5 separate regions of the Homo sapiens genome follow, and regions 1, 2, 3 and 5 are each linked to region 4. The links come from fine-mapping of genetic effects on gene expression. A gene starts in region 4. Each other region holds a variant in brackets. All regions are shown on one strand. Distances are from middle to middle. Region 1 holds the start of SIRPD (signal regulatory protein delta). Region 2 overlaps SIRPB1 (signal regulatory protein beta 1). Region 3 overlaps LOC105372499 (a long non-coding RNA gene). Region 4 holds the start of SIRPB1 (signal regulatory protein beta 1). Region 5 overlaps SIRPB1 (signal regulatory protein beta 1).

The links. PIP is the estimated chance that this variant, and not a neighbour inherited with it, causes the effect.
Region 1: its variant is fine-mapped to the expression of SIRPB1 in whole blood (INTERVAL, PIP above 0.99).
Region 2: its variant is fine-mapped to the expression of SIRPB1 in whole blood (TOPMed, PIP above 0.99).
Region 3: its variant is fine-mapped to the expression of SIRPB1 in whole blood (INTERVAL, PIP above 0.99).
Region 5: its variant is fine-mapped to the expression of SIRPB1 in memory regulatory T cells (Schmiedel 2018, PIP 0.92).

The regions. Positions count from the first base shown.
Region 1 is chr20:1,556,510-1,561,394 of GRCh38, forward strand. SIRPD (signal regulatory protein delta) reads right to left here and starts at 1,196. Exons shown (of 4, transcript NM_178460.3): 1 at 1,072-1,196. The coding sequence starts at 1,144. LOC107985409 (a long non-coding RNA gene) reads left to right here and starts at 1,498. Exons shown (of 3, transcript XR_007067493.1): 1 at 1,498-1,615; 2 at 4,036-4,156. It overlaps SIRPB1 (signal regulatory protein beta 1), which reads right to left. Exons shown (of 6, transcript NM_006065.5): 6 at 4,876-4,885. The variant C/T (reference allele first, on the strand shown) is at 2,010.
Region 2 is chr20:1,563,034-1,567,918 of GRCh38, forward strand. It overlaps SIRPB1 (signal regulatory protein beta 1), which reads right to left. Exons shown (of 6, transcript NM_006065.5): 5 at 3,120-3,234; 6 at 1-2,464. The coding sequence ends at 3,122. Among named protein-coding and RNA genes, the nearest start is that of SIRPD, 7.8 kb to the left of the region's middle. The variant C/T (reference allele first, on the strand shown) is at 3,090.
Region 3 is chr20:1,525,165-1,530,049 of GRCh38, forward strand. The region is part of intron 2 of LOC105372499 (a long non-coding RNA gene); the gene reads left to right. It also overlaps the pseudogene RNU6-917P. Among named protein-coding and RNA genes, the nearest start is that of SIRPD, 30 kb to the right of the region's middle. The variant C/T (reference allele first, on the strand shown) is at 2,331.
Region 4 is chr20:1,617,128-1,622,012 of GRCh38, forward strand. It overlaps SIRPB1 (signal regulatory protein beta 1), which reads right to left and starts at 2,882. Exons shown (of 6, transcript NM_006065.5): 1 at 2,742-2,882. The coding sequence starts at 2,817.
Region 5 is chr20:1,568,498-1,573,382 of GRCh38, forward strand. SIRPB1 (signal regulatory protein beta 1) reads right to left here. Exons shown (of 6, transcript NM_006065.5): 3 at 3,223-3,540; 4 at 2,308-2,640. Among named protein-coding and RNA genes, the nearest start is that of SIRPD, 13 kb to the left of the region's middle. The variant C/T (reference allele first, on the strand shown) is at 2,342.

The DNA of each region.
Region 1 (4,885 bases), 61 kb before region 4:
TTGAAGTCTTAACCACAAGTAGCTCAGAATGTGACCTTACTTGGAAATAGAGTTACAGAGGAAATCAAGTTAAAATGAGGTCATTGAGGTGGGTGCTAATCCAATATGGTGGATGTTTTTATAGGAAGTGGAAATTTGGACACAGAGACAGACATACATGGGAGTAAGATGATGTGAGGATACAGGGAGGGTGGTGCCACCTGCCATCCAACAAATGTTTGAGGCTACCACTGCTAGAAGCTCAGAGACAGACATGGAACAGATTCAACCTCACAGTCCTCAGAAAGAACCAACCCTGCCCACACTTCGATTTTGAATATCTAGTCTCCAGACCTGTGAGAAAATTAATTTCTGTAATTTAAACCACCCAGTTTGCAGTACTTTTTAAGAGCAGCCAAATGCAGTGGCAACAGAGAAATAAAAAACTGAATTTCACAGAAAGAAGTGTAAAATCTGCCAGGGGCCAGGTGTGGTGGCTCACGCCTATAATGCGAGCACTTTGGGAGGCCGAGGCAGGTGGAACTCTTGAGCTCATAAGTTTGAGACCAGCCTGGGCAACATGGTGAAACCCCATCTCTACAAAAAAGACAAAAATTAGCTGGGCATGGTGGCGCGTGCTTGTAGTCCCAGCTACTTGGGAGTTGGAGGCACGAGAATCACTTGAGCCCAGGAGGTGGAAGTTGTAGTGAGCCAAGATCGCACCACTGCACTCCAGCCTAGGTGACAGAGTGAGACCCTGTCTCAAAAAAATAAGTAAAGGTAAAAATAAAATAAAATAAATTACACCCTCCAGAGGCTGGAGGGTGAGAGCTGTGATGGATGCTGTGCCCCGCCCTGTGACCATAGGTGTGAGTCGTTTACCTGAGCAAAGAGATTTGCAACAGACATGGCCACCGGGAGACTTTGTCAGAATTGGGGACCATCCCAGTGTAGTCTTCTGAGTTCTGCCTGTTCTGGGATAAGATGGAGAAAACCCTCCCAAAAGAAATTCTATGGGAACAGGTGAGGGAGAGTTCACTAAACAGGCAGAGGGGAGAACCCACCACACACATACACTGAGGCCCCACTCACCTGCCAGTTCAAGCAGCAGATACAGCAGTAAGGAAGGCAGAGGTGGGTGGAGTGGGGAGGCAGGGATGGGCATTGTGGTGAAACCTGGAGCTTGCTCTGCCTGAATGCCTGTCCTGGAGATGCCCTCGACTCAGTGCTCCGAGCAGAGAAGACAGTTCTTGCCTCTGTGATGTCAGAGGAAGGGGATTGTGATGAGAGGAAAGGCCAGGGGACTGGGACACTTTTTCCTTTGTGATTATAAAATTGAACAGACAAGGTTGCTTCAAGCTAGGAAGTTGCTGCTGGAAGTATTTAGCTTTGCTGGGGCTGGGGGGCTTGACACCCACAGCCTTATACTCCTTCCTGAGTTTCATCCCATCTCACAGGTTCTCCCCAACTTCATGGCCTTTGCCTATCTAGGAGCCTCAGACACATAGGCTAGACAAAGGCCTCATCCACATGATGCGCAGGTATGGGTCTAGCTCCTGCATGAGCTCAACATCTGGGCCTGTCTGAGCTGCACAGCTGAAGAAAGAGACAAGATGTCTATAGCCTCACCCACTTGGTAAGAGTTGGACTTTACAATGGATGCCCTTTCTTGCACTCCAGAGTAGTTAGAGGTAAAAAACAAGCAATATCTGCTGTGGGCTCTTGGCTTTTCTGTGGGTCCCTCCATACACTACCAGGAACTGCTTCCTTTTTCCTTCCTGCAGAGGAATCAGGCATGGCTGAGAAAGACATTCGAGTTGTGCAGGTGGTGATGATTTGTGCTTTAGAGGATGGAGGAGGCCTGCAGGGAAGGCGGAGCTGCGGGGAACACTCTCTAGGAGGGAGAGTAACATGCCTACAAACACCTGGGAAGGTGAGGGCTGCCTCTCCTGCTTGGGCTGGACCTGGGACCAGCTCTCAGAGATGGGATTGGAGGGGCAGAAGAAATGCCCCCAGAAAGAGGGAGGAAG[C/T]AGCATGTTGGCATCCTTCTCTCTCAGCTCTGGAATGGGTTCTTCCTAAGCACAAATGTTGTGTTCAGGGACACTCAGCCCACACTCAGCTGGTGACCCTTTAATGTCCAAGCATCCACAGGCAGGCACTGGCTGCCATGGCTGTTTCCCCATTGCCTCCTCATGACTTCTGCCTCCTCCTCAGGAACCAGCTAGATGTCAGGGCCGGGAGAGGTGTTAGACCCTCTAGGAAAAGAAAGCAGAGCCAGGCTGGCACGTTCTCTCTGAGACGACAAGAGTCCCCATCCCCTTGTGATGTCATCATCCTATCCCGTTGTTCTGAAATGATGAATTCCACAAAGGAATTCCTATCCATGGCCCCTGCTTGGAACTAGACAGGAACATTCCTCCAGCCTCCATCATCCTCCCCTTCCCCTACTCTGAGGAATCTTCTCACCTTTCATTAGACTCTAAGTTCCTTGGAGAGTCAGTACTCACGGGTCAGTATCCAAGAGTGCCAGCTTTGGAATCAGATATAATCTAGGCTAGAATCCTGAACGCACCTCCTAAGAGCTGAGTAATCTTGGGCCCATGATACAGACCTGTATATTCTGCAACCTTCTTGACATCTTCATTTGTATATATATATATATATGTATTTTTTTTTTCGAGACAGAGTTTCGCTCTTGTTGCCCAGGCTGGAGTGCAATGGTATGACCTCGGCTCACTGCAACCTCTGCCTCCCGAGTTCAAGTGATTCTCCTGCCTCAGCCTCCCGAGTAGCTGAGACTACAGGCGCCCACCACCACGCCTGGCTAATTTTTGTATTTTTAATAGAGACAGGGTTTCACCATATTGGTTAGGCTGGTCTCGAACTTCTGACCTCAGATGATCCACCTGCCTCAGCCTCCCAAAGTGCTGGGATTTCAGGTGTGAGCCACTGAGCCTGGCCTCTTTGTATACCTTAAATATTCAAGTTTGAGTTTCAGATCTGCACTCACAAACCTTATCTTCTCCCACACCATGCCTGTTTTGTATATGGTACCATCATCTAAGCAGTTTGTCAAACCAGGAAGGGACTCATGTTCTATACCCTCACTTATCCACTTGTTACCAAGTGAAAGGGGGTTGCTGCCTGATGTGCTAGAAGCCAATACTGTGACACCAGGCTTTTGAGAAAAGAAAAGCTTTTTATTGCAAGTTGACTAACAGGAAGACAGAAGTCTACCTCAAATCTAGCTCCATGTGCTGGCTTCAAGGCAGTAGTTTTATTAGCAAAAGTTTAGGGGTTGGATTCTGGGATTAGTATGTGATTTGTGAAAGGAAAGGGGAGGTCTGGAAAGTCCTTGGGCATGTACAGTTATCTCTCTATGCCTCTTCACGGCTCCCATGTGCAAAACCCTGGGGCGTCATCATGAAATACGTGGTAGAAACTCAGGCTGTGACATCAGCAAGCTCATTCTGAGCAAACTCCAGTTGGCCATATTGGTTCCAACAGATTTTAGTCAGTTTTGTTATCCTACAAGTGGAGGAAGTTTCGGCAGTTTAGCAATTTTTTTTTTTTCTTATCTGCTATCCTGTAAACTCAAGAATTTCTTAGTGACTGGTTTCTTTAACTCTTTGGGGGCATAGTTTCACACTCCTATCTTGCCCCTACCAGGCCCTATTGGATTTACCTCCTAAATCCCTTCTGAATTAATCTCTTTCTCCATCTCTATCATCATCTCTTGCCTGAATAAGAACAATTGCCTTCTCACTAGGGTACCCCCATTTTTATTTGCCCCCTATAATCTCTTTCTCCTTCTTCAGCCAGACTGGTCTTTTTACAACATAGATTTAATTATGTCCCTCTCTTGAATAAACATTTTTGTGGATTCTCATTAATCTGGAGGTACTATAAACAAGGCTTTCTTCTGTGACTGACTTGCTCCCTTAGAGATGAAGGGATCCCCACCTTTCTGATACGTAGCATAGCTTCACTGTCCCAGGTTGGGTTCCCTGGGAGACAGACTCTGGGGTGAAGATGAACAAGCAGGTTATCTTTCAGGGAGTACTTTTAGGATCAACACTTGTGGACGGGAGAAGATGGAAGCAGGACTGGGTAGAAGAAGAAGCTGGGCTGCAATGAAGTCCCATTGAAGACCTCAGCTGACCTTGCATGGAGCCTGGTACTAGGATATTCCTCCAGAGTTGCTCTGAGTTAGGATAAGAGAGCTGGGCCTTTATACGACTAGGTTGATGAGTCCAATGAGATGTGGTTTGTTACCAGATACGACCTAAGCAAGGGCACTCCCTTCAGCTGAGACAATCGCAAATAGAGCTGATGCTGAGGACCATCTCCACAGCCAGGTGCCTCTCAGCATCCATTACACAATTCATGGGAACAACTTGTTCCTGTGAAGACTTGGGCTCAGGACATTATTCACTCACTCATAGTCAGGTCCTCAAAGCTATCCCAGCTCACCCACATAACCCAAAGTTTTCTGATCCCACTTGGTCTGACCTGGATTTTACTAATGGGAAAAGTTTAGGGTGAGCATCACGGGGGATTGAGAAGCCACTTCCTCTGGGATCTGAGTGCCTAGATCTGGGGTGAGCTCTGGTAGTGGACAGAGGAAGGACGAGAGGAAAGGAAACCTCAGGCTTTTGAAGTGAGATAAAACTTTGGAATATCAACAAAGTCTCCCTACCGCACATTTCCTTGCATTGTTCCCCACGGGGTACAAGAGGCAAATAAAACCTAGCTGAGGACAAGACGTTAATTTTTTCTAATAGACTTAATTTTTTAAGGACAGCTTTAGATTTACAGAAAAATTGAGCCCTATCATTAGCATCTTACATTGATATGATACATTATTATAATCAATGAACCAATATTGATACATTATGATTAATCA
Region 2 (4,885 bases), 54 kb before region 4:
GTGGTAATAAAAGGGCTGAAGATGTCCCAAAGGTTGAAATGCCAGCAAAAAACTTCACATGAAAGGATCTTCTGGAGTGATTCCACAATATTGAAAATTCAAGGGATAAGATGTTGGAAGCTAGTCCAAACTTAGAAAGATGGCAAAACACCAAGGTATAATAGAAATGATGCTTGCTGGCTAGGCATGGTGGCTCATGCCTGTAATCCCAGCACTTTGGGAGGCCAAGACAGGTGGATCACCTGAGGTCGGGAGTTCAAGACTAGTCTGATCAACATGGAGAAACCCCATCTCTACTAAAAATACAAAATTAGCTGGGTGTGGTGGTACATGCCTGTAATCCCAGCTACTCAGGAGGCTGAGGCAGGAGAATCACTTGAACCCTGGAGGCGGGGGTTGCAGTGAGCCAAGATCACGACATTGCACTCCAGCCTGGGCAATAAGGGTGAAACTCCATCTCAAAAAAATAAAAATAAAATAAACAAATGAAAAGAAACAATGCTTGCTCCGTGTATTAGCCCATTCTCACACTGCTATAAAGAACTACCAGAAACTGGATATTTTATGAATAAAAGAGGTTTAATTGGACTCACAGTTCCACAGGCTTAACAGGAAGCATGACTGGGAGGCCTCAGGAAACTTACAACCATGGTGGAAGGAGAAAAGGAAGCAGGCACCTTCTTCACATGGTGGCAGGAGGGAGAGAGAGAGAGAGAGCGAAGGGGGACTTGCCACACACTTTCAAAAAACCAGATCTCATGAGAACTCACTGAGATCTTATGAGAACTCACTATCACAAGAACAGCAAGGGGGAAGTCCGCCCCCATGATTCAGTCACCTCCTACCAGGCCCATCCCACAACACATGCAGATTACAATTTAAGATGAGATTTGGATGGAGACACAGAGCCAAACTATATCACTCCATATTAGAAATATACAAAAAAAGGCAAGCACTCTTCCAACTACTCTGGATACATTTTTACAAAGAAACAGCACTTGAACTCTCAATGTTTCTAATGCTTTGAATTGTAGTGCACAAATAAATATTTATTTCATTATATTTTCATTGTCCTCTACATTTGTAACTGAGAGTGTGAGAGTTTCTAATATTTTGACAAAAAATGGTAAAGGTCACAGAATGATCATTGTTTTTCTGATTGACTATGGAGACTGCTTTCCTGGGTTTCAGGTTGCACAGTCATTTTTGCAATCTTGCACTGCCATGAAAAGTGAGGGCTGCCTGTATTCGGCATAATACTCATCAAAATAAGGGCTAAAGAAAAATTAATTAGGATAAGAGAAATTAGAATGCCGGGATAGAGAAAATAAATAATATTTTATACAAGGTAGTTTATAGAAGGTGCCTTTAATGAAGTGACATTGAGCAGAGACTTGAAGGAGGGAGAGCGGGAGCCATGCAGCTGTGTTGGGGAAGAAGCAGAGAAGTGATATGATTTGACTTTTCCAAAGAATCACTGTGGCTGAAAAATGAAAGCCAGAGGAGTGGTCCCCAAAGAGATGATGCTGGCTGGGACAGGGAGGGGTGGTGGAGGTGAGAGGTGTGGAGAATAGGGATTTAACTCTGAGGTTTCCAGCAGCAGGCTTGGACTGGGCCCTGAAAACCAATTGTTAAATTTCAGGAATCTTGCAATCTGGTTGTTTAACTGTTGGCAGTGTGAAATTGGTCAGGTTGGGAGTTATTACACTAGAGAAATTGGCAAGCACTGCAAAACAGCTTTTGGTTTTTCCCTTTCAGAAAGTCCATTGTTAAACATTTACCATCTCATGTAAGTGGACACATGCATTTTGGAGGCAGAACTGAATATGAGTTGTAAAGGGCAGTCATCGAGGGCTCCTCAATGTTGGGCTGTGGCAGCATTTCTACCACAAGCAGCAGGACTGGGAAGGCTGCAGGATACTAGAAGAAATACTGTCTCCATCACAGAGAGAGAAGGGAGAGCTTCTTTCTTTTTGGGTTTGAGGGATAGGATGCTTGGACAAAGAGGAAAGAGAATCATTTTTTTCTTAAAATTGGTATAGGGGTTCATGTGTATTCAGGAGGCAGTAGAGAACCTCAACAAGGCTGGGGGAGTTGGGGTAGGCAGGAATCCAGAAGACAGGATAACTCTTGAGAGCCTGGAGAGAGTCTGTGGTTTATGGCCAGTCCCAAGGCGACGGATGGGAGAAGTCCTGGTGTGTTTAGATTTGGAGTGTTTCTCACCTTCTAGGGAGGTGCCATGAGTCAGTGCCCAGAGCCCAATCCCATGGCCCCTGCTCAGGACCGTGAATAGAGACACTGCTTTGGGGCATCATGGTCTTGTGAAGGTGGAACAGGAGCGTGTGGGCAGGCAGATGACCTGGGAGAGGAGGCGTTTGGAGCTGAGTGTGGGGAAGGTTCTCGCCAGCTCCTTCTCTCAGGCTGAGCTTCTCAAGAAAGGAGGAGGCAGCAGAGACTGAGGGTCCTACATGGCAGGGAAGGAAGGAAGGAGCTGTTGGAAAACACATCCACATTCATTCATCTGCTCATCATTTAAGAAATGTTTCCTGAGAGCCTGATATGTCCCTAGTGCTGGTCTCCTCTTGGGATGCCTGTTATGGGTGGACAGGCAGACCTGAGATAGGACTCTGCCAGCTCAGCACTTCTTCCAAGTCCTGATGCTCCCTCTTCCCCGCTTTCCACTCAAGCACACAGAAGGTCAGAGCAGGAACAGCCCTCAGAGCAGCCTATCTGGGAATTCTCAACACTACGGTGGGGATTACTTTGAACCCATGGAGTCCCAGCAGTGGCCTCCAAGGGACCACCCACTCAGTTGGCCCTCACTTAGACCCCTCTGTCCACCTTTTCCATGGGACTCCTAGGCCACTGGGGACAACTTTGAACCCCCTTGAAGCATCCCACCTCCTGTAATACCCTTGACCATCCCAACTCCTGCACACTCCCTGGGGGTTGGGAGCCCCATACAGGGTTCCCTGAGACTCCTGAGTATCCTGAGGGAGCCCTGTCACCTTCTGTAAACTCCACTGACCCTGAAGCTGCATGGCATGTGAGCTGGGCCCTCCTGCTGGCCTTGCCTTTCTGGAGGAGCC[C/T]TTGGTCAGTCCTCCCTCTCCTAAACTTACAGTCAGGCCTTCTGTTTCCAGCAGATGTAGATGGCAGAGACACCAACCACCAGTAGCAGCTTGGGGCCCAGGAGGAGAGCTACGAGGAGTGGAGCAGTAGGAGCCAGCGCTGCTTCTGGAAATCAGGGAAGAGGAGGAGCCATGAGAGGGGCCACCTGGGAGCTCATCCCAGGGGCCTCCACTTACCCCATCTGAGGCTACCTGGGCCCATCAATCCTCTGAAGCTTTTGAACTTGCATCCTGCTCTGGCTTTCCTGACTCCAGCCGAAAGCAAAGGCCAGGGAAAGTGGCTCCTCATTCTCACTCACCCTGTCCCAGGCTGCCAGTTTATCCTCCTGGAGGGAAAAGGTGGAGAGAGTGTGTGCTCAGGTATTCATATATGTGGCAACTGGGTTCCTCACTTGATCCTCACACGCCCATGGGGCAGGGATTATTATTCCATTCTGATGGGGAAACTGAGGCCAGAGAGTTTAGGGAGTGTCAGGAGATTAGTAGGATCCAAACCTAGGGAAGCCCATCATTATGTCCCCAAGGGTGACTCCTGAGTCCAAGACAAGTCCAACACTCCAGGATCATGAGAATGATTAGTAAAGGGTGGGCAGGTGGTGTGAGGATGGATTCAGAGTGAGAGAGTTGCATGCTGCCCTTCTTAGCCCCAGGGGCAGGGAGAGGACCCCATATTCTCATGATCTCAGGGAGCCCTCCAGGGACAAGACCCAATTAAACCTGCTGGCTGGAAAATTCCCTGGTGAGTCAGGGAATGTGCCTCGGGCTTGGAAGGGCCTCAGACATCATCTCTCCTACCTCAACCCCAGTGCAGATGTCATCTGAAATCTTTCTGTTGGACACAGAGAGTCAGATCTACGGAAGCTCATGTTGGGACTGTTTGCATTTTTTAAATAAGGGGTTTTGGATGTTAAAAGTAACAAAGGTATTAAAAAAAATTTTTTTTAAAATAAAATGGTGCTGGTGGGTCCTTAAGGAAGGAATGGAGACCTCAGCATCTATAGCCGCTGGAGTGTTGGAGTGTTGCAGGCCGGCAGTTCTCAGATGGGTGGCTCTCTGGGGCTTTCTCTCCTTTGAGGAGAGCTGCACTGCCCAAGTTTATTCCTTCTAAGGGGCAGCCCACATGAGAGATAGACTGCATTGGGAATATGAAGGGCCAGCCCTTCCCCTCAATTTGAAAAAAATCTACAGGACCCTCCGGCCTTTTGCCTCTCTGCAAGAGCAGCTGCATCTTTGTACTGCCTGCACTGTGGCTCAGCACCTCCCTCCTCCTACACTCCTGCCTCCTCATTCCTGAGGCATGTTGACCCTGACAGCACTCTAGGATGCCTCCTGCATTGCTTTATGCATCCTCAGGTGGCCTCCCAGAGAAACTGTCCTTGGGAAGTGGTCTGGAAAGAAGACTCTAAAATATAAGTTGGGAATCTGATTACTCATCAGCTAGCAATGAGGACCCCAGGGCTGGTGGTGAATGGGACTGGAGAAGCCGTGACTTGCTGTTGTGTTGCGATTGATAACACTTTCACTGGCACTAAACTGGGATAGTGTTACCACAGGAAGGAAATTCCTTGCCATTAGCCTTTTGAAAACAGATTGGGAAATGGTCGTTATAAGAACTAAGGTGTTAGCTGTTGCTGGGCATGAACTCTTGGGAGGAAGGCAATGAGAAACTAAGAGTGATTCATCATGAGTTAAAGTTCAGCTGGAAGCCAGAGGACTTCTTGGCAGCACTGCAGATTCTTATTTCTTGGAGCCACAGG
Region 3 (4,885 bases), 92 kb before region 4:
TCACTCTGAAGTGGTGTGCTGAGTTCCTCCTTACGCCCTTTTAAAGTCACATAATACCCAGTGTGCGGCTGTACCATAATTTAGTAGGCAGCTCAGCTTTTGCTCTTACCAATAGTGTTGTGATGAAGAGCCTAAGGATAAGTCATCCTGCACTTGTGTTAGTAGATCTTTGGGATACATTTCTGGAAGTTGAATTGTTGGGTCACGAGGTAATTTTGCTAGATATTGCCAAGTTCACCTCTTTATGAGTTATATGGTTTTGCATTCCTAACAGCAAAATATGGAGTAATTGTTTCGCCTTAGCTTCCCCAACAGAACGTGCTGTTGAACTTTTGGATTTTTGGTCAAGCAGATAGGTGAGAAACCGTGTCTCAGTGTAGTTTTTAATTTGCATTTCTTCCTATACAAGGGTGGTTGAGCGTATTTTTATATGTTTGAAACATTTGTATTTCATTTTCTATAACTTGTCTTTTCCCATTTATTGCCCATAATTCTAAAAGGTTGACTGTCTTCTAAAATTTTAGAAGCTTTCTCTATATTAGGGATTATTTTTTGTCTACGATGTAAATCGCAAAATAGTACACACACCTATACACAAGTTTCTTTTTGTACAATGCGATCAAAATTATAATCTTTTAAATCTTTCTGCATTTTGAGTTACAGTTGGGAAGGTTTTCTCCATTTCTAGGTTATAAAAGAATATATATATATATATGTTTTCTTCTAGTACTTAAATAGTTTCGTTTCTTACATTTAAATCTCTGATCCACTTGGAATTTATTTTGGTGTATGGTGGGAGGAACTAGATAGATACACTTCTGGATTTTTCTATGCTGTTCCATTGGTCTATTAACTCTTCAAATGATCCAACACCACAGTTGAAAAGTCTCTTCTTTTTCCACTGACTTGCCTTCATACTTTTTTTTTAAGCAATCAATTGACCATATGTATGAGTCTATTTCTAGAATCTCTATTCTGTTCCATTGATCCACTTGTCTTTTTTTTCTTTTCTTTTTTTATTTTTTAATTTATTTTATTTTATTATTATTATACTTTAAGTTTTAGGGTACATGTGCACAATGTGCAGGTTTGTTACATATGTATACATGTGCCATGTTGGTGTGCTGCACCCATTAACTCATCATTTAGCATTAGGTATATCTCCTAATGCTATCCCTCCCCCCCACTTGTCTATCTTGATGCCAATACCACACTGTATGATTACTATAGCTCTATAATAATTTTCTGTTCATGAGGGATATTGATCTATAGTTTTGCTTTTCTATGATTCTTTATCTGTAATGCTGGCCTCACAGAATGGGAAGCCTCACTTCCTCTTTAATTTTCTGAAATAATTTGAGTAAAATTGTTAGTACTTCTTCCTCAATTGTTTGATAGAATTCCTCAGTGAAGTCATCTGGGTCTGAATTATTCTTTGTCAGAGGCTTTTTAAACTACAAATTTAATTTCTTTAATAGATATAGCGATAATTAGCCTATTTATTTCTTCTTGAGTGAGCTTTAGCAGTCTATGTCTTTCAAAGAATTTGTCCATTTCATCAAAGTTGTTAAGTTTATTGGTATAAAGTTTTTCATAAAGTTCCATTATAATCTTTTTAATATCTGTGGAGTCTGTAGTAGTGTCACCTCTCTCATTATTGATATTGGTAATTTGTATCTTCTTTCTTTTTTCCTGATTAACTGTGTGGATATGGATTTATTAATTTTATGAATTTTCTCAAGGAACCAGCTTTTGCTCTTATTGATTTTTTCTATATTTTTTCATTTTATGTTTCTGATTTCTGCTGTGTTCCTTATTATTTCCTTTCTTCATTTTTTCCTACTTTTTGAAGTCTCTGAAAAAAACCTTTCTTCTGTCCTAATATAGGGATTTAGTGCTATGAATTTCCTGCTAAGTACTCTTTTGGCTGCATGCCACAAATTTGGTATGCTATGCTTTCATTTTCATTCAGTTAAAAATATTTTCTAAGCCAGGAGTGGTGGCTCATGCCTGTAACCCCAGCATTTTGGGAGGCTGAAGCAGGCAGATCACTTGAGCTCAGGAGTTTGAGATCAACCTGGGCAACACAGCAAAACTCAGTCTCTACAAAAAAATACAAAAATTAGCTGGGCAGGGTGGAGTGCACCTGTAGTCCCAGCTACTCAGGAGGCTTAGGTGGGAGGATCACCCAAGCCCGAGAGGTTGAGACTACAGTGAGCCGTGATTGTGCCACTGCACTCCAGCCTGTGGGACAGAGTGAGACCCTGTCTCAAATAAATAAATAAATACATACATACATACATATACAAAATACTTTCTAATTTTTCTTC[C/T]GATTTCTTTTTCAATAATGTATTATTCAGAAGTATATTTAGTTTTAAAATGTTTGGAGATTTTCTAGAGATGTTTGCTTTTTAAATTTAATTTCTATGACTACTGAGGGTTAAATTAAATAAAATTAAAAATAAATAAATAAATTTAATTCCATTGTGGTCAGAAAACACACTTCTCATGACTTGATTTATTTCAAACTTACTGAGACTTATTTATGGCTGAGAATACAATCTATGTTGGTAAATGTTTCTTTTGTAGTTAAAAAGAATGTGTATTCTCTTGTTTTGGGATGGAGCATTCTATAAGTATCAGTTAGCTCAAGTTGGCTTATAGTGCTGTTCAAGTCTTCTACATCTTTACTGATTTTCTGCCTCCTTTTTTTACCAATTATTGAAAGAGAGGTTTTGAGATCTGACTATAATTGTAGATTTTTCTATATATTCTTGCAATTCCATGAGTTTTGTTTTATGTATTTTGAAACTCTATTATTATATGCATCAACATTTAGAATTGGTATATTTTATTAATTGATAAGCTTATTATAAATGATATTCTATGTTCTCATAATTTCTTTGTTCTAAATACACTTTGATATTAATGTAGGCATTCCATATTTAAAAAATTATTGTTGATGTTGCATATATTTTTCTGTCCTTTTATTTTTAATCTATTTGTGCCTTTATTTTTGAAGAGAATCAATTCTCTGCAGGCAGCAAATAGTGGATCCTACTTTAAAAAATATAATGCAAAAATCACTTTATTTTAATTGGTGTGTTTAAACCATTTACATTTAATATGATTATTTATATGACTAGGTCTAAATCTATGATCTTGCTACTTACTAGCCTCATCTCTTTTCCAGTGTACCTCATTTTCTGTCTTCTTTTGGATTGATTTTTATGATTCTGATTTATGTCTTTTGTCAGTTTATTAGCTATTACTCTTTGTTGTGTTATTTTACTGGTTGTTTTGGGATTTCTGGCATACATTATTAACTCATCATTATTTACCATGAGTGATAAGGTATCACTTCACACATAGCATAAAATTCTTACAGTAATATATTTCTGTGTCTCTCTTCCTGGTCTTTGTGCTATTTTTCTCACACATTTTACTTCCATGTATGTTATAATTTGTCAAATATATTATTATTGTATTTGCTTTGAACAGCTATGTTTTAAGTACATTTAAATATACTTTTAAAATATTTTCCCACATTGTTACTATTTCTCTTGCTTTTAATTTCTTTGTATATATCCAGGTTTCCATCTGGTATCATTTCACTACTGTTGGAAGGACTTCTTTTTAACATTTCTTGTAGTGCAGATCTGTTGATGATGAATTCTTTCAGCTTTTGTATGATTGATAAAATCTTTATTCTTCACTTCAAAAATTGTGGTAAAGTACACATAAGATCTGCCATCTTAACCATTTTTTAGTGTACAGTTCAGTGGCATTGAGTACACATTTAGAGTACAGTTTCAGTGGCATGAGTCACATTGTTGTGCAACCATCACCACTATACATCTCTAGAATGCTTTCCATCTAGCAAAACTGGGAAAATATATGGAATGCATCACAAATTTGCATTCCATCCGTGTACACAGGCCATACTAATCTCTGTATCATTTCACTCTTAGTATCTGTGCTGCCAAAGTGAGTACTTAACTCCAGCCTGGATGGCAGAGCAAGACTGGCTCAAAAAATAGATAAATAAATTAAATGCTTAATTTTATGTATTTATTTTAAAAGATATTTTTGCTAGGTAAAAATTCTAGAATGACTAATTAATTATTGTTTTCTTTTTAAAAATGCTTTAAATAGCCAGGCATCGTGGGGCATGCCTGTAATCCCAGCATTTTGGGAGGCCGAGGAGGGTGGATCACCTGAGGTCAGGAGTTCGAGACCAGCTTGGTCAATATGGTGAAACCTTGTCTCTACTAAAAGTACGAAAATTAGCCAGGCATGATGGCAGGTGCCTGTAATCCCAGCTACTCGGGAGGGTGAGGCAGGAGAATTGCTTGAATCTGGGAGGCGGAGGTTGCAGTGAGTCGAGATCGCGCCGCTGCACTCCAGTCTGGGTGATGAGGGTGAAACTCTGTCTCAAAAAAAAAAGAAAAAAAGCTTTAAAGATGTATCCCCACTGTCTTAAGCTTGCATTATTTTTGATGAAAAGTCTCCTGTATTTTTTGTTCTTTTGTATTTAATATTTCTTTTTGGGGGGCTGCTTTTAAGATATTTTCTTTATTGGTTTGTGCAACTTGGTTTGTGCTTGGGGTTCATCGAGTTTTTGGATCTGTGGGTCTACAGTTTTCATCATATTTGGAACATATGTGACCATTATTTCTTCAAATATTCTTTCTGTCCCCTCTTCCACTGGTGTCTCCAATACATATCTATTAGGCCACTTGAAATTTCCCCATAGCTGCTGATTGATGCTCTGTTTATCTTTTTTTTTTGAGATGGAGTCTCGCTCTGTCGCCCAGGCTGGAGTGCAGTGGTGCCATCTCGGCTCACTGCAAGCTCCACCTCCTGGGTTCACGCCATTCTCCTG
Region 4 (4,885 bases):
TGGAGGCTCCTCAAAAAATTAAAAATAGAACTATCATATGATCTGGCAATCTCACTATTGGGCATACATCCAAAGGAAATGACATAAGCATGTCACAGAGATATCTGTGCTCCCATGTCCATTGCAGCATTATTTACAATAGCCAGGATATTAAATTAACCTAGATGTCCATCAGCAGATAAATGGAGAAAGGAAATTGGTATACACAATGGAATTCTAATCAGCCTGACCAAAGAAGGAAATCCTATCATTTCCAACAATATAAATGATCCTGGAAGATATTATGCTAAGTAAAATAAGCCAGGCACAGAAAGACAATACTGCATAATGTCTCTCATATGTGGAATTTTAAAAAGTTGAACTCATAGAAGTAGATAGTAGAATATTGGTTACCAGGCACTAGGCAGGGGGTGCATTTGGAGAGATATTGGTCAAAGGATACAAAATTTCAGTTTAGTTAGGAGAAATTAGTTCCACAAATCTATTGTACAATATGGGGTCTAGAGTTCATAACACAATTCGTAACCTCAAAAATTGTTGAAAGCAGATTTTGAGAGATCTCACCACAGAAATGATACATATACAAGGTAGGTCATATGTTAATTAGCTCAAATTAGGCATTCTGCAATGTACACATATTTCATTAATATGGTATACATGATAAGTATATACAGTTCTGTCAAATAAAAATAAAATATTTTGTTAAAAGTTTCATTGAAATTAGAAACTTGGAGAAACAATGATAAAAAATGAAATCTCCTGTGTGTGCATGTACACTTACTTATATGCATACATGCATATACATATGTATACACACATATGTATACACACATTTGCAAATATATATACACACACATATATGTATATATACACACACACACATATATATGTATATATAGACACACACATATACATTCACAAATATATATCAAAGTGTGACCTATTGTGATAGTATATAAGTTTGTTTTGTGTATTAAATAAAATTACAACACACGTTAAAATCTCATTAAAATATCTGGCCCATAGAAAGTAAAATATGTGGCCCATAGAAAGCATCCAACACATTAATAACAAATTTAGAAGTACATACATCACAGTTGTAACTCTGGTTGTTGCTAACAAGTGTGGTAGGCAATAATTAATTCTATGTTTACTTCCCTGCATTTTCTAATATTTCTGCTAGTAGCATAACACGACTAAAAGAATGAACTTTGGAGCCGGTCGACCTGGACTTGAATCTCAGCTGCTCCACTGACTGAGGTAGGGGACAATGAATGGACAAGTTCCTCCCTCTGCCTGAGTCTTTGTTTGGAAATAGGGGATAATAGTTGCAGCTTTCACACAGGGATGTTGTGAGGATTAGTGGAGCTAAAACAGGCAAAATGCTAATAACTGTGTCTACATGGTAGGAAGAGCTCAATTGTTAAACTCTTACTGCTGTCATTTGGGTACAGTGTATGTGTGAGAAAAATAATTTGAAAAGTGAGACCCCTGCCCTCTAGGGCCTGTGAGGTGACATCACAGCAGGGCCCAGTGGGGAATTGAGAGGCTGCTGTGCCCAGCCCTGTGGTTCTGGGGTCAGCTCCATGGCCTGAGAAGGGATCAGGACAGGTAACTTGTCTGGGAGCTGTGAGCAGGGTTCTCCCAGGCTGCACCAGGAAAGGCCCTCCAATCCTGCCTGTCTTGGGAAGGGGAAAGAAATTATCCATGGGAAATTTAAGAGAACCAAAGGAGGTTGTAGTACCTGTTATGGGCTGAATGTGTCCCACAAAATGCATGTGTTGAAGCTCTAATCCCCAGCACCTCTGAACGTTACAGTTTGGGAGACAGGGTCTTTAAGAAGTAATTTAGTTAAATGAGGTCATTGGGGTGGGCCTTAATACAACAAGACTGATATTCTCATAAGAAGAGGAGATGAGGACACAGACACACACAGAGGAAGATCATGTGTTTAAGACACAGAGAGAAAATGGCCCTGTATAAGCCAAGGAGAGAGACTTCAGTAGAAACTAACCCTGCTGACACCTTGATCTTGGACTTCAGCCTCCTTAACTGCAAGGAAGTAAATATCTGTAGTTTCAGCCACCCAGCCTGCAGTTCTTTGTTATGGAAGCCCTAGGAAAGGAATATAGGACCCAGTAAGCAGCAAATGTGGAACTTCTTAAAGAGGAAGAGGCCACAGAGAAATGGGTGGTAAGAATCAGGTCACAGGGGAGGGAGGAGCATGGGGGAACAGAGGACAAAGTGAGGAGCACCCTTAGGGAGGATGGTGGCTGAACACTCCCAGGATACACCACACCACTGCCCTACTCAAGTGAGCACTATTACAGACTTCACATCCTCAGTTTGGTGAAGAGAGAGGGCTGGGCCTAGAGCCACATAACCCTGTTAGGGTGTCTCTGAGCTTACTCTGTGGACTTGGGCATGTCACTTGGCCCTAGGGCCTCAGGACTGGTGAGGATTTAGATAATGATTCTTCTCTGCTTTTTCAATTGAAATATTATCAAAATGTAAGTAATTGTTGTTGTGGTGGTTGAATCGTCCTGTGGTTCAATGCCTCTGGTAGCCAGCTGCAGATCCACAGAGAAAGTGCTCAGCTCCCTGATTTTCTGCTCTCAGTCAAAGCCTAATCCTTGGCCTTTCTTGGCAGCACTTGTCATTGTCCGGAATCCCTGAAAGTCCAGGGACAGGCCATGGCTCAGTGGGCAGGAAAAAAGATTTTAACCGAAGGCAGTGCTCACCTGTGAGTCTCCCCAGCAGTAGCGTCATCAGCAGGAAAGGACTAGGAAGGTGGGGCCAGGAGGCTGGCACGGGCATTCTGGAGACCTTAGGAGCCTGCTCTGTCCAAACGTCTGTGCTGGGAAGATCGCAGACTCTGCTCTGAGGAGAGAAGACAAGCCCTGCCTCCCTTAGTTCAAGAGGAAGTGGCTGCGATGGAGTGAAGCAGTAACCTGCTTCTGGATTGTGAAACAGAAATCAGGAACAGCAAGCAGCTACAATGCAAGCAGTTATGCATGCCCCATTTCAGGAGAATCAGACAGGCTTAGCAGAAATAATGCTTCCTTCCCACCTGAGGTCTTAACTCCTTCCATGACTCCTAACCCCATCTTTATGTCTTCTTGGTGATTTGCCATTTGGTGCTCTTAAGCCAGGAAGGACCTGTGGTTATGAAATGTTTCCTAAACTTTCCATCTCAAGACCTCAGGATGTGGTTGGCTTGTGGTCTCATTCTACAACAGCCTCAACCAAGTGCTACTCAGTTGGGGCAGGATGAGGGATCACTGGACCTGCTCAGTGTTGGAGAGGAACAGGTCTGCTCTTGAAATGGTTCCCTATTCCGAACTTTTATAAATATAAATGGCAAAACTTAGCCCAAATTCAGTCTCATGTGGCCGTTAGCACTTTCATATGCCTGCACCCAGCAGAAGGAATTATTTCCTGACTTCTTCCAGGAGAGGAAGTGGGCTTAGGGTAATAAGGATCTGCTTTGTGAGGTGAGGTGGGGATTATGGGTTATGGAAAGGGGATATGTTTATTATGGGGGAGAATATGGAGGGCAGATTCCTGGAGCAGTCACATCGATTTCAATACTCTTTGCTCTGCACATAGAACACCTATTCCATTCATCACTGTCTTCAGATGGGAACTGAGGAGGGAGGGAGAATAAATACCCTAAGAAGATGTGCTAAGGAGTTGGGGAAGTTACTGGGCCTGCCTAGGTTCAGTTTTGCCTTCTAACCTTGGGATAATAAGTCTCACTGCCATGTTTTAGTGAACATCAAAAGAGATAATGACTATACATCCCTGAGATTCAGTAGGTTATTATTGATACTCATGGTGCCAGGTGAAGAGAGGGAACTCAAATATTGCTTTTAAATGGATTTCTACTGCATGCTGAGTTTCCCACCAGTGGCCTTCTCCCATGTTCCCCGGACTTCTGGAACCCAGCTTTTATGGTGTACTTGGTCTACCTCTGACACTCTGAGATCAATTTCTCCCTCTGGATCCTCTTCACCCTGCTTTTTGTCAATCTGTAGATGAATTCCTTTTCTTACAATCTCCAGCTGTGTGACTTTCAACAAGACACTTGACTTCTCTAAGCCTTAACTTAATTACATGTAAATGGAAGTTATAACATGCACCTTGTAGTGATATGGTAAGAGTAATATAAGCCATACAGAAGGTTTGATTCATATTTAATTATAACCAAAAAATTGTGGCTATAATTACATTTGTGTACAGGGTGAGTTCACTGCTTCCCTGACATACTTGTGCTTTAGAAAAATTTCCTTGGTAGGAGAAATGGTTTCTCCTCCATCATCTGTGACTAAGAAAGACCTGTCTGGAAACCTCTCTTTCCCATGCTGGGCTTGCAATCCTTCACCTATCATGAGTAATTGTCAAATGAAATTGTAAAAGTCATCACATTTCCATGCAAATTTCTTTTTCAATGTGGCAGATGCACAGAGGGTGAAATCATCACCTCCTGCTCCACACTCACAGAAATGAATATAAAAATGATAAAATCATGTTAATCGATGCCAAATTACACTTTAAAACAAGAAACTAGTCTCTATATGACATGAAGGGTAGTAGCTGCTGTGTTTACTGCAGATGTCCTGTGCTCCAGGTACTGTGCCAAGCATTTTGTCAGTTACCTCATTAATTCATCACTCTGGTCCCATGAAATTAGCACTACCATTAACCTTTTTTTATAGGTGAGGAAACTTGAGGCACGCAGGCAATAATACATTTGTTCAACATCACCCAGCTTTTAGAACTAGAACACAGGTTGTCACACTCCATGGCCTTCACTATGACACCTCTCATAAGAAGGGAGAGATATCTCTCAGGAAGGAAGCAGAGAAGAAGCCATAACGTCAAT
Region 5 (4,885 bases), 49 kb before region 4:
GTCCAGATGGTACAGACTCATCTCATCCTGTGCCTCCTTGAGAAGTACAACTATGAACCCAAGAAATATCATGAGGAGCAGGCATAGGAGAACTTCCAAGGTGGAAGAGCGAGGTAAGAACCTGAGGACTGAGGAACAGCCCAGCAGCCAAACAGCAGGGACTCTATGCCCAAATACCAGCCCCCAGCCACAGAAAGTGATGAAGGGAGGACATAGAAAAGAGGAGGTCTCAAGTCAATAAATATAAATCCCGCACTTAAAGAAACTACAAAAAGTAGGGCAAAGTAAACCCAAAGAAAGCAGGAGATAGGAATTAATTTAAAAAAAAAAAGAGAGAAGAGAGCAGATAATTAATGAAACTGAAAACACAAAAACAATACAAAAACCCATTGAAACAAAGAGTCAATCTTTTGAAAACACCAATAAAATGGGAAAAAACTCTAGCATGACTGATGAAAAAGAAAAGAGAAATGACACATTTTTAGTATCAGGATGAAACGTGGGATACCATTGCAGACCCTGCAGACACCAAAAGGGTTATGAGAGGATATTATGAACAACTCTACACACATAAATATGACAACTTAGATGAAATGGACCAAAAGTTATGCAAAACACAACTTACCAGGGCTCACTCAATAGGAAACGAAAAATGTGAATAACCCTAAACTATTAACGACATTGAATCTATGATTATAAAATATCCAAAAATATCCCTGGGGCCCAGATCTTTCAAAGGAAAACACAAGCATTTAAAGATAAATTAAAACCAAATTTAACACACAGGAAAATGGTTCTAAAAAATTTGGTAAAATGTGAATGTATGCTCCATTTTAGATGATATGAGGAAATTATTTTAATAACTTTATGAAATTTAGTGATTTGAACACTTAAAATTTAAGTGGACAATGACACTGGTTTTGTGAAAAATGTCCTTGATCACATGATCCCTCAATGTGCAACTGCAGGTGCATGCGTGAGCAAGTTTTCAGTGGACGTGACTATGCACCTTCCACACATCTCTGATGATTGGGGACATTGTTTGTCTTCTATTTCGTGTCTTTCCTCTTCTGGCAGGCAGGGACATGAACAAATCCGTGACTCAGCACTGACCCAGGAGATGACGCAAACATCATAGGGTGTTTTGGAAGGAACCTGAGTCCTTATTCTTATTTCCTGGAGCCTCAGGGCAGAAAGAATAGAAGATTGGGCCCCAGCCATCATTAGAAGAGTAGCAGAATCACAAAGGATGTTGAATGTCAGCTTTAATGGCTTCTATGCTGGGGTTGGGCCCTGATGGGGAAGTTGTGGGACCCTGAGATGTGGGAGGATGTATTCGGGTCAAAGCACTCAAAGATTGTCTTTCGACTGGAGTAGAGGGACCCCTCCTGGTATTAAAAGAGAGGGAAATAAGACATATTTTGGTTATAGAGAGGGGGAACACTGGCCAAATTTGGGTCCTTGGGACAAAGCGCAGCAGAAAGGGAAAGTTTCTCTAATTAGCACAAATTCCCATTATAGCCTGGTAGTGAGCCTGTCCTCAGGGACTAGATTTACCTTCATTACTTTGGACCAATAACCTGGTCTAATGACAAGAAGTCTTCAACAACATCCCTCATTACTTCCTAAGTCCTGGTTTCCCCTTTGGTAAAACTCCAAGCTCACTGGGTGTTTGAAGCAGGAAAGGAGATCAGAGATGAACAGAAATTTGCATATAGTAAATGTGCAGAGTGGTTGTGATTATTGTTGGTCAAATATCACCATCAGAACACAAAAGAAGCCTGTGCTGTGACCAGGTCACCTGGGGGTCTGTCCAGGCTTAAACTTCACTTGTCTTTCTGAAATTTATAGAGCAGATGCTGGAGACTGGTGGCTGAGGTCACAGATGCGGATGGAAAAGTTTAGGATAGAATAGGGACAAGGTAGAGGTTAGAAAGTGTAAAAGGCAAGGTGCTGTGCTGGCGAGAAATGCAGAAGAAGGCGAGACACAGGACTTCATAAACAAACGGATCACCTCCCTCTCTCTTTTTTCCTTTAATGTATATTTATGTCAAAATATCTATCAAGTTGTGCATCAGACTTGACGCACAGTTTCTCCTGGTAGATGGGGCTTAAGGGTGTCTACAAATGGCCAATTGTTACCTTGAACCTTCTAAGTAGTGGTGACCCATGGAGTGTAGGATTTTAATGTAGACGTTAAAATTCTACTTTATATTTATAGACTTCTAGCTTATTTTATGACAAGCATGAATATTGCTTTTAACATTAAAGAAAAAGACAAAATTTAAAAATGGGAAGTAACCGCACCATGGGTGATATCTGAGCCGTGCTCCTTCTGGTG[C/T]GCTGAGATCTCCAGGGCATAGCTTTTGCTGACTGCTTGCTGCCCATCATGCTCCACCTGACAGGTGAGCACCACATCGTCCCTGTGGGCACAGGTGTTCACCAGGAGCCAGCTCATCCAGTTGTAGGTGCCATCCTTGTTCTCTATGAGGGTCGAAGCTGTTTCTGTCCGGGACACATTTCCATTCTCCAACCAGGTCAGCTGTAGTCCCCGGGGGTAGAAATTGCTCACCTGGCAGGTGACGTTTGCCTGGTTCTCTGCCCTCATGGGCTGTTGAGTAACCTCCAAGGTGGGTGGAACTGAAACAGCACAGGGCAGAAGCTCTGATCTTGTGGCACAGACAGATCACAGGGAGGGCTAAATAACGTAGCTCCCACCAACACAGTGAGGGCATCACCAGGACAGTGCTAGGCAGGCAGCAGGTGCTCAGACATTGAGGGCACTCGTTGCATATGAGTGAAATTACTAAGCACAGTGCCTGGCGCACAGTAGGTGCCCAAGGACTGTTAGCTGCTGCTAGGCTAAGGATGAGTGAAATCTACAAGCACAACCCCTGGCATGCAGTTGGAATGTAAGAACTGTAGCAAAATCAGTGAAATCGCCGAGCACATAGTGATTTGGCTCCTAGTAGGTGCTCACTAATTGTAGTTGCTCTTGGTGAAATAAATGAAACTCTGTAGCCCAGAGCTTGGCACATGGTTGCTGGTCCCCTGACAGCTGCCATTAAAATGATAGTAAGTGACCGGCTCACCTAGGTGCATGGGAGGTGGACAACACAGTTAGGAATTAGATTCCAGGCCTTTCAAGCTCTGGAGCCTGGGGAGAGGGGAGTGGGCTTGGCAGCCAGGTGTGGGCTTGGGCTGGGTGTGAGGGTCTTCTACCTCGGATGGCCTCAGACAAGTTGGCAGTCCCACGAAGAGGGTCCCCCTGCAAGGTGATGTGGGCTATCTCGCAGATGACTTGAGAGTGAACGTCCCCACGGGTCAGCACCACCCTGGCTGTGCTGTGGATGCTGTAGGACACACTGTCTCCTGCGGGGTCCACGTTGGTCTGGAAGTCTGAGAGCTCATTCCCATTTTTGAACCATTTCAGGGTGATGTCTCTGGGAGAGAAGCCATGGGACTCGCAGGTGAAGCTCACTGTGTGCTCAGGTGTGGCCCTCACCGCAGGGCCCGATACCACGGGGGCAGAGGGTTTGGCTACAAAAGGACCATCGATAATCAGGAGACATGACTCAGATGACCATCACTGATGATAAGCGTTTGACATGTTAAGAACCTTCTGAGACGTTAGTTTTTAATCTTTCTAATAATGTCGTGAAGGCAGTGTCCTTATTCTCATTTTACAGATCAGGACACAACAGCTCTTAGAGGTGAGAACCAGGCCATGGTCAGACAGTGAGTAGGGGCAGGGCCCAGAGGGAAGTCCAGGCCTGAGTTCAAAGTCCTCTCCACACAGGGAGACTTCCACCAATCTGGGCATAGGAACAAAATTACTGATTGGTCTCCCTCCATGTTATTAACTGGTCCTAGCTGTCCTCCCCCGGAAGGCTCACTAACCTCAGAGAGGGCATTTATAGAAGCCAATACAGGGATCAATGGCAAAGTGGCACCACCGTGAGAGCTGCAACCAGGCTGCTCAGCCCAGGACAGGGGTGGGCTGACAACCCCAGCTCCTCATCCGCAAAACAGGAGGACGGAGGACGGCGTTTCTACTTCCTGGGATGTCGCCAGGATTCAATGGGGCAATGGAAGCAGTTTTGCTCTGGATCAAACACAGAAGATGCTTCCCCCAAAAAACACAGATCTATCTTTAACCCAGACTTTACAGATACACAGAGGTCTCTCTTTAGGTATTATAAAAATATGAAACATTCCGTATTTTTCTTTTCACAAATATTTCGTTCTGTCAAATAAAAGGCATTAATTAAGGATAAAGCTTTAACGTAGAGCCAAGAGTTTGTAAGAGCATTGGAATCACACCTGCTAAAGGTCAAGCCACAGGATGTTGCAGTAGATAGACCTGGATAACAACTGAAGCCAGGGTCCGTGGGATTTTGATCTCTTTCACCTGGAGTACTTTAATGAAATAACCAATGAGAGTGGGTTTGCAGTTGAGGATTTTCAACCAGCTAATGAACTGTTTCCAAAAACAACCTTTTGTGAAAATCCCCTATAAAAAACCTGTCCTGTATTGCCATACGGGACACTATTCAGGGTTTCACTGACTCAGTGTACCCAAATTGCACCTCTTTATCTTTCAGATAAATGCTATTTCCTTTGGCCTTCCTAACAATCATTTTGCTGTTGTTGTTAGTTGTTCTAATCTGCTGGAAGTCCTAAATTTGAAAAGAGGAAATTTTTGGGAATCTGAATCTTCAGTTAGGACAGGTTTGGGTGAAAAACAAGGATCACTGAGTACTAAGAAAGCCAAAGGTGGTTAGCTTTTTCATCGTTAATTAATTACAAGAGACAAAGACCCAGGCCACACCAACAGACAGAAACCTATTCTGGGCCTTGAAAGCAAACACATTGGAGAATCAGA